2 linked regions of the Homo sapiens genome follow. The protein of the gene in region 1 purifies or fractionates together with the protein of each later gene. This does not show direct contact. Each region holds a gene or a part of one and is shown in the gene's direction. Other genes may lie near its edges.

The links. Proteins that work in one complex are often made in the same cells at the same time.
Region 2: the proteins of DTX1 (region 1) and NLRP3 purify together in Homo sapiens (affinity purification with western blotting; one study listed by BioGRID). This does not show direct contact.

Annotation. Positions count from the first base shown.
Region 1 is NC_000012.12:113,090,389-113,095,775, forward strand, and holds part of DTX1 (E3 ubiquitin-protein ligase DTX1), read left to right. Parts: intron 1-2,773; coding exon 2,774-2,835; intron 2,836-3,150; coding exon 3,151-3,312; intron 3,313-3,649; coding exon 3,650-3,711; intron 3,712-4,400; coding exon 4,401-4,559; intron 4,560-4,653; coding exon 4,654-4,815; intron 4,816-4,936; coding exon 4,937-5,026; intron 5,027-5,387. UniProt on the Homo sapiens protein: Functions as a ubiquitin ligase protein in vivo, mediating ubiquitination and promoting degradation of MEKK1, suggesting that it may regulate the Notch pathway via some ubiquitin ligase activity.
Region 2 is NC_000001.11:247,422,673-247,427,115, forward strand, and holds part of NLRP3 (NACHT, LRR and PYD domains-containing protein 3), read left to right. Parts: intron 1-557; coding exon 558-677; intron 678-1,174; coding exon 1,175-2,927; intron 2,928-4,443. UniProt on the Homo sapiens protein: Sensor component of the NLRP3 inflammasome, which mediates inflammasome activation in response to defects in membrane integrity, leading to secretion of inflammatory cytokines IL1B and IL18 and pyroptosis.

The DNA of each region.
Region 1 (5,387 bases):
GCCCCTCTTCCTGGGGCCCCCCCGCAGGGTGCCCGACAAGAAAATCAAGACACCTCCACTCTCATCCCTGCGCCAAATGATGAGCTTTACATGTTTTAGCACATTTAACTTTCACAGGACTCTATCCCCATTACAGGTGGGGAAACTGAGGCACAGTGCTTTCTTCCCACCTCCACTGACCAGGTCCTGGGGGACCCAGGGTACCCGCCATCCCATCCTGCCTCCCTCGGGAGCTGTGTTCATTGACTTCCATCACACCGGCGCCTCCTCAAGGGGCTCAATCCAGATGTCTGCTCCAGACCTCTCCACAGCCCTCAGAGGGGTCTGGGATGGGAGTCCTGGCCACGTGATACTATCCTGTATAGCCGAGCAGCCACCAAGTGGGTGTGTGTGCGCTGCACCTGTGTGCATGTGTGATTGTGCCTCTGCATGTGTGCAGGTGTGGGCCTCCCAGGCTGAGTGTCTGTGTGTCAGTGTCAGGAGGTGTGGGTCAGAGCATGTGCGCATGTGTCCTCGTGTGCAGTGAGTCAGCGTGTCCTCCTGCGCCCCCATGCATGATGTGAATCAGTACGCACGAGTACTTCCCCACAGGCGGTGCGGAATCGTGTGTCCGCGTGTGGACGGCAGGCCGTTCTGCAGGCTGCAGCGCGCCGGGGGCTTGTAGGGCTGAGCGCATGCTCCTCTGGGTTTGCTGCCCACCTTACCCAGCTCTGTGCAGCTGGGGAGAGGGGCGGCAGTAGCAGGTGCGGTACTGGTCTACATGAGCCACCGACTCTTGTCCAATGGAGTATCCTCCCAGGGGAGAGCTGTGTGTGCTTCTGTGTGTATGTGTGTGTCCCCGTGTGTGCACAAGTCTCTGTATGTAGGTGTGGGGAGGCATTCCCTGGAATATGTGAGTGTGTGTGTATCTTAATCCATGTATGTTTGTGGGGGGCGTGCCCTGAAGTGTGCCTGTGTGTATCCATGTATATGTTCATGGTGTGCATTCCCTAGTGTGTGCGGTATGTTCCCCAAGTAGACGGATGGGGAGGGAGGCTCCCTGGTATCTGTGTGTCTGTGTGTGCATGTATCTGTGATGTACTCCCTGGGTTGTGTGTGTTTGTGTGTCTGTGTACTTAAACATGTGTGTGTAATGTGTCCCGGGGAGTATGATAAGTCTGTGTGGTCTTCTCCATGCATGTGTGTATATTTGGATCTGTGGATCTGTGTGGATGGTGTGTGCCCTGGGTGTGTATGTCTGTGTGTCTGCACCCACTGCAGCAGTACCCAAGCCTGCCAAGGGCACCATTTGCTTGAAGATGCTTTCTGGTGCCAACTGTGCCTGCCAAGGACAGGTGACCAGACAGCATTAGACAGGCTGTGACCTGAACAGGCACGGCCAGAGCCAAGGGGGCTGCTGCAGCTCCTTCTCCAGCTGTCACTGCTCCCAGCCCTTCCTGCCCCCTCTCCTGGCACATCCCCCAAGGCCTTCAGGCTGACCCCTGGATTTCAGAACACCCCTCTTCATCAGAACGTATCCAGCCTGGGTTCCATGCCCATCAACAGCAAGACACCAGTTCCCCTGCATAAACAGGTGCTGAAGTCAGGAGGACTCAGGCAGACACACTGTACACATCACCGCAAGCTCTCCTTCAGTCCTCCCAACGACTATAAGTGAGGTGTTAATATGCCTGTTTTACAGATAAGGTAACTGAGGATCAAGAAGTTAAGTGACTTGTTCAAGGTTGTCACTGCAGCAGTTTTGTGGTTTCCTCTCTAAGATGGAGAGAAGTTACACCAGGACTTAGTGCCTGGGAAGCAAAGAGGTGAAATTACTCGGCCAGGATTGCACAGCTGACAGTGATGATACCGATGGCTGTGCTTTTAGTAGCTGTTAGGTACCAGGAACTGTGCTTGGCCCTTGACACATATAATTTCACGGAATCCTCACAGCAGATTAAAAAAAAAAAAAGGTACCATATTGTCCCCATTTTACAGACCACCCCTTACAAGAGATGAGATGATGTGCTGTGTGTCGCCCAGCTCATTAGTGGTTGAACTGAGATATGAAAGCAGCTCTGGCTGACTCCAAAAGCCAAAGCTCTTTTGAGGGCCAGAGGAAGAGGAGAGTCAGGATACCTTTTCCTAGGGGCTCTTCATTTGAAGAGAGGATAGTACCTTGTCACAGAAACTGACATCAGTAAATATTCCAGAAGAGAAAAAAAATTCATCACCAAATGCTTTTGAAAACCTGGACTTATCATTGTTAATGATATGTTCTTACGCAGGGCTTGTCAGAGCCTTTAATATGCTCAGATATGTTGTGAATTTCAGAGAGGGAGACAGTGACGTGTTCCTAACTTACTTGATTCCTGAATCCTTCTTTCCTGGAACGTTTTATGGAAATTAATAATGCTACATCTAACAAGCTTTGAGAGATGTTAAAATAGCTACACCACTAGTAGTTGGGTTTCAGGCACAGCGGCCAACGAAAGGAGCCCTCAGAGCCAAAGCGCCCTCTCGAGGGAGGAGCCGGCTGTAGGGTAAGGAGGTGTCTGCACTAAAGTCTAAGGGTGCATCCCATTGGAACCTGGGCGGAGGTCCTGGCCACCCCCGCCCCATAATAGGATGTCAGAGTAGAAAGAGAGTTTCCTGGAGGTAACTGCAGTTGGCAGAGAGGTACAAAGAGGCCAGGGTGTGTGGCCCAGGAGCCAGAGACAGAAGGCAAGCCAGGTCCCCTGACGTCGCTTCGGGGGCTGGAGTCCAGCTGCGGCCTCTTCTCTTCTCCCCGCAGGGTCCCCGCACTCCCGGTGAAGAACTTGAATGGTACTGGGCCGGTCCATCCGGCCCTGGCAGGTGAGGTCTGGCCCAGGGCGGGAAAGAAGGGCGGGGCCCACTAGGAGGCAGCTCCGCCTGTCACCCGGTGACCCCGCCCCCGAGATGGGCTGGTGAGCGTGGCCCGGAGGAAACGCCCCCTTCCACTGGGCCCAGGACACAGGGCGGGCGTGGCCCGCAGAAAGGCCCTTCAGGGGCCTTCAAGGGGCTGAGTGGGTGGGGCCCAAGAGCGCAACCCTCCCACCCACCCGAGGGCCCCGGGATTCCCAGGGCCAGTGGTCGGGGGTTTGGGCGGGGATGGCGCCCCGCCCTGTGACTGCGCCCCCTAACCCCCAGGGATGACCGGGATACTGCTGTGCGCGGCCGGGCTGCCCGTGTGCCTGACGCGGGCCCCCAAGCCCATCCTGCACCCGCCGCCCGTGAGCAAGAGCGACGTGAAGCCCGTGCCTGGCGTGCCCGGGGTGTGCCGCAAGACCAAGAAGAAGCACCTTAAAAAGAGTACGCCCTCCACGCCCTGCCTCACACGAGATGAACCCCACTAAGCCTTGACCACAACTCTGTGACCCCTGGTCTCCAACTTATTCTTAGCATTTACTACCTCACCTCCATTGCCTGATCTCAGCTCCCCTTGCCCTGGCCCCATCTTTCACCAGCTCCTGTTACAGCTAACCTCCAGCAACCCCTGACCTCTGACCCTGGCCAACCCTTGCCAGCCTGACCCCGGCCAACCCTTGCCAGCCTGACCCCTGCCCTCTGACCCCTGACCCAGTTCTGAGCCAAGCCTTCGGGGACAGACTCTGGGTACCCTCAAACCCACCCCGCTGTGTCCCTGCAGGTAAGAATCCCGAGGATGTGGTTCGAAGATACATGCAGAAGGTGAAAAACCCACCTGATGAGGTGAGGAGGGGATGGGGGGGCTGGGGGAGGGCCCTGGCATGGAGGGGGCAGGAACCCTCACCCCTCCTCCTGGGTTCTGGGTGATACAGAGCTCTTCTAGTTTGTTCCTTTCTTCACTTTATGAGGTTTTTTGATGAATAGAAATACTTACGTTTAATAGACTCACATTTATCCATCTTTTGATGATTGAGTTTTTGTGTCATTTTCACCCATATTTTCCACTAAATGTTTTTAAGTTTTGCTTTTGATAGTTAAGCCCTTAATTCACCTGGGGGGTGGTGAGGGGAGCCATCTTCCTCTGTGATATATCAGAATTCAATATATGGGAAGGGGCTGGGTGCAGTGGCTCATCCCTGTAGTTCCAGCTACGTAGGAGGCTGAGGCAGGAGGATCTCTTGAGCCCAGGAGTTTGACTCTGCAGTGAGCTATGATTGCACTGCTGCACTTCAGCCTGGGCAACAGAGCCTGTCTCTTAATAAAAATAAATAAATAAAATAAATAAAATAACGAAGAAGAAGAAAAGAAAATAAAACAATGTATGGGGCAGAGGGTGTGTCCTGTCTCCCTTTGCCAAATGGGTACCAGAGAGAGTGTGGTCTGCTGCCTATGGTGACCCACCAAGGGGCAGTGCTGACCCAGTAGGTGCCCTGCCCTCCCCAGTCCTCAGTCTCCCCTGCTGCCACCTGCAGGACTGCACCATCTGCATGGAGCGACTGGTCACAGCATCAGGCTACGAGGGCGTGCTTCGGCACAAGGGCGTGCGGCCTGAGCTCGTGGGCCGCCTGGGCCGCTGTGGCCACATGTACCACCTGCTGTGCCTCGTGGCCATGTACTCCAATGGCAACAAGGTGGGTTGGGCGGGACAATGGCTGAGGAGTGGGCAGGGAACGGAGTGGGGTTTGGGGGGGTGCTGGGAACTCACTGCCAGCCTCCCCTGCCCAGGATGGCAGCCTGCAGTGCCCCACCTGCAAGGCCATCTACGGGGAGAAGACGGGTACGCAGCCGCCTGGGAAGATGGAGTTCCACCTCATCCCCCACTCGCTGCCCGGCTTCCCTGATACCCAGACCATCCGCATCGTCTATGACATCCCCACAGGCATCCAGGTGGGCTCCCCTTCCGCCTCTCTGGCCCCCAGCCCCCACACCCCTCCAACTCCTCCAGATGCTTCTCCACCCTGCCACCACCTGTTCATGGTCTAAATCCCTGTACTGTCCCTCTCTGCAGGGCCCTGAGCACCCCAACCCCGGGAAGAAGTTCACCGCAAGAGGATTCCCTCGCCACTGCTATCTACCCAACAACGAGAAAGGCCGGAAGGTGGGTGCCCAGCCGTGAGGGCATGGGAGATAGGCACAGGCAGGGGCTCCAGCAACCACTGGCCTGGGCCTGTGGTCCCCATCATTCCCAATCCCTGCTCTCACATTCCTCCCAAAAGCAGCACCCGAACAGTAACGACCACAGCCACCTCCTTCACACATCTTATCTCGTTTCCTGAGCCACTGAGGTCAAGATCCTGACCCCATTTTATAGACAAAGACACAAGGCTTCAGAAAGGGCAAGTCACTTGACTGTGGTCACAGAGAAACTAAGTGGCGGAGCTGGGATTTGAGCCCAGGCAGTCCAAGCTGTCACCACCACCCTACAGGTTGTCTGATTTGACTTTCTGCTTTTCAAGAGC
Region 2 (4,443 bases), on another chromosome or scaffold:
TCCTGGGTGATTCTAAAGTCAGCCAGGATTCCCAACCACTAGATTAGGCACGAAATAGACTGGTCGTTCTCACTCTTGAAGAACCAGACATCTAGACTTGACAATAGAAGACGTGTGTAAAATGGATTGCAGGGAACTGCGGTCAGGGAAGGGTGACCTTTCTTAGCCCACAGCCGTGTTGGGGATATAGGAGAGCTTGGAGATGCCCTCACAATCAGGCTGCCAGGGGCAGGCAAAAGCAAACGAGGGTAAAAGAAACTTAGCCTGCTTCGCATGTTTGCTGATTGATTTCCAGGCCTGAGGAAGAGATTCTGAGACTGGGGACAGTGGGAACACATGCTTGGCAGGTGGACAGCAGAAGTTGTTTTGAAACTAGGAGTGCAGAAATGCTCCCAACCAGACTTTTGACTGGATACCTGTCCTCTGCAACTCAGAGCCATGTTTTGATTTGGGGGATGTTTGGGGTCTCCTCTCTCATGCCAAATATTAGGCCAGGTTTCAATTGCATCCTCTGTGATAATAGTTCTGGGTTTTGACACCTTTTTTTTCCCTTTTAGGTTCAGATAATGCACGTGTTTCGAATCCCACTGTGATATGCCAGGAAGACAGCATTGAAGAGGAGTGGATGGGTTTACTGGAGTACCTTTCGAGAATCTCTATTTGTAAAATGAAGAAAGGTAAGCGACTGGGGTGGTGCTTCTAGTTGAGTTTTAAGACCTGGTTCAGGAGGCTCTGGGAAGCTGAGCAGCTGGGTAACTTGGCCATACTATAGGTTCCTGCTCTTTGGAATGCAAAGGCCTGTCTCAGGAAATCCATTGTCAGTTGAAGAAACAAATTCATGTTTGTGTGGCTCTTGCAGTCCCAGAGCCAGCGGCGGTGATTAAGCGTTTCAAGTTTGATAAGGCATAGGATGCAGATTACTTAAAGGAATAAGATTGATTCAAATGATCTTTGGGCTGGTAGCTACACATAGAGATGGGCCTTCTGCTCAGCTGTGTATCTTAAAAACTTGACACCAGAGATTCTCGGCACCTTTCCTACCCAGTGGGGAGGAGCTGCACCTTCCATTTCTCCATTCCGGTTACCACTCGCTTCCGATGACAGGCCCCAGCTGAGAGCGCATCTCAGGTGGATGTGTGTATACTTTCCCCCTAACTTCCTGTCTTTGCCGTAGATTACCGTAAGAAGTACAGAAAGTACGTGAGAAGCAGATTCCAGTGCATTGAAGACAGGAATGCCCGTCTGGGTGAGAGTGTGAGCCTCAACAAACGCTACACACGACTGCGTCTCATCAAGGAGCACCGGAGCCAGCAGGAGAGGGAGCAGGAGCTTCTGGCCATCGGCAAGACCAAGACGTGTGAGAGCCCCGTGAGTCCCATTAAGATGGAGTTGCTGTTTGACCCCGATGATGAGCATTCTGAGCCTGTGCACACCGTGGTGTTCCAGGGGGCGGCAGGGATTGGGAAAACAATCCTGGCCAGGAAGATGATGTTGGACTGGGCGTCGGGGACACTCTACCAAGACAGGTTTGACTATCTGTTCTATATCCACTGTCGAGAGGTGAGCCTTGTGACACAGAGGAGCCTGGGGGACCTGATCATGAGCTGCTGCCCCGACCCAAACCCACCCATCCACAAGATCGTGAGAAAACCCTCCAGAATCCTCTTCCTCATGGACGGCTTCGATGAGCTGCAAGGTGCCTTTGACGAGCACATAGGACCGCTCTGCACTGACTGGCAGAAGGCCGAGCGGGGAGACATTCTCCTGAGCAGCCTCATCAGAAAGAAGCTGCTTCCCGAGGCCTCTCTGCTCATCACCACGAGACCTGTGGCCCTGGAGAAACTGCAGCACTTGCTGGACCATCCTCGGCATGTGGAGATCCTGGGTTTCTCCGAGGCCAAAAGGAAAGAGTACTTCTTCAAGTACTTCTCTGATGAGGCCCAAGCCAGGGCAGCCTTCAGTCTGATTCAGGAGAACGAGGTCCTCTTCACCATGTGCTTCATCCCCCTGGTCTGCTGGATCGTGTGCACTGGACTGAAACAGCAGATGGAGAGTGGCAAGAGCCTTGCCCAGACATCCAAGACCACCACCGCGGTGTACGTCTTCTTCCTTTCCAGTTTGCTGCAGCCCCGGGGAGGGAGCCAGGAGCACGGCCTCTGCGCCCACCTCTGGGGGCTCTGCTCTTTGGCTGCAGATGGAATCTGGAACCAGAAAATCCTGTTTGAGGAGTCCGACCTCAGGAATCATGGACTGCAGAAGGCGGATGTGTCTGCTTTCCTGAGGATGAACCTGTTCCAAAAGGAAGTGGACTGCGAGAAGTTCTACAGCTTCATCCACATGACTTTCCAGGAGTTCTTTGCCGCCATGTACTACCTGCTGGAAGAGGAAAAGGAAGGAAGGACGAACGTTCCAGGGAGTCGTTTGAAGCTTCCCAGCCGAGACGTGACAGTCCTTCTGGAAAACTATGGCAAATTCGAAAAGGGGTATTTGATTTTTGTTGTACGTTTCCTCTTTGGCCTGGTAAACCAGGAGAGGACCTCCTACTTGGAGAAGAAATTAAGTTGCAAGATCTCTCAGCAAATCAGGCTGGAGCTGCTGAAATGGATTGAAGTGAAAGCCAAAGCTAAAAAGCTGCAGATCCAGCCCAGCCAGCTGGAATTGTTCTACTGTTTGTACGAGATGCAGGAGGAGGACTTCGTGCAAAGGGCCATGGACTATTTCCCCAAGATTGAGATCAATCTCTCCACCAGAATGGACCACATGGTTTCTTCCTTTTGCATTGAGAACTGTCATCGGGTGGAGTCACTGTCCCTGGGGTTTCTCCATAACATGCCCAAGGAGGAAGAGGAGGAGGAAAAGGAAGGCCGACACCTTGATATGGTGCAGTGTGTCCTCCCAAGCTCCTCTCATGCTGCCTGTTCTCATGGGTAAGGAAACTCGGCTTCCAGGTGCTTCCTCCTGCTTCCTCGCCAGCTTCTTCTTGGCGCTTGCCTCCTCTCATCTCTTTTCAACTATCTTCCAAATACTGTTGCCACAGCTACATCATAATGCCACCACTGTCTGTTTGAGACTCCTTCATGAGCAAAGATTGATGTATGGTAGGTGGATAAATGGGATGAGGAAAAAAAAAATAAAACAAGGAACAAATGTTTGGGGAATGCCAGTTTAGCACAAGGTATTAAGTAGGATGTAGGATTGCCTACAAATATTTGTCAACTGAAATTTCTTGTAAGCTACTTGGAGCACTAGTGCCTAAGAGTCAGTCAATGTCTGTGGGGCAGAACAATGCCAGAGAGTCTGTGTCCCAGGAGCGAGGGGACAGAGGGCCTCAGAGCTGGAGGCTGGGGGGATGTTTCTTAGAAATGTGCAATCTAAGCCTCCTTTAAGGAATGGTGGGACCTGGGCGCATAGAGAAGAAATTAAAGGAATTCTGCACTGAAGACTGGTATGAGCCAAATCATGAATGCAGTCTGAGAAAAAGTGTGTGCAGGTGACAGTGGAGAGAGACACAGTTTCCTTGGAAAAAAACATGATGAAGGTAAATCAAGGGAAATAGAGCAGAAATGTGGAGACCCTCTTTCTAGGCCCCCATGTTGCTCTGCACTGGGCATTGCCAAAACCCCGTTTTCGGGTCTGTTCACACACTTGCTGGGTGGTTGGAAGCTAGTGGCCAAGTCTGTGCAATGAAGTGGTTGAGTCACCTGACTTCTGAGTCCCTTTTGGGTTTATCGTTCAGTGCCTCCTGCAGAAGGACCACCCACAGTGGTTGTAGGAAGGTGGCCACCCTGTGATGTGTGAGTTTAGCCTGGATAGAAGACACTTGACGTGGGGCAAAATTAAGGGAAACAGGAGGCTTGGCCCTTCCACAGGCAACAATGAGTTTCAGCTTTCTTGATCCGTTGACATTACCATGACCAGGACCACCTTCCTAGTCATGGTTTGGCCATGAAGGACTGACTGCCCACAGGGCCGCAGTGGTGGTGAAGACCCAGGTCCTGGTCACAGGGACTTGAGGTCTGGCTGTGGGACAGTCCGGAAACAAGTGCAGATGTCGGGGAGGGGGTCATGGGCTCTGACAAGGAAACTTGCAGAGTATCCAAAGCACAAGGGGACGAACCTGTTCACCAGCGGGGCACGGGTGGGTGTCCCCGCTCAGCCAGCTTCCGGAGGATGGGCAGTGAGAGAGTGAGAGAAGGAAAGGGGCAGCCAGGCTGGGGGCTTACGGTGTTGAGAGAGAGGGCAGGTGTGGGAAAGCAGGGTACGGTTTCTACGGCAGCAAACAGTTCCGAGTGACTGGAAAAAAGACAGTTGTCTTCATTCATCAGGTTGCCATAACAAAACACTGCAGGCTGGTTGGCTTATAAGCAAAAGGAAGGTTCACCTTACGGTTCTGGAGGCTGGGAAGTCCATGATCCAGGCTCTGGCAGATCTGGTGTTTGGTGA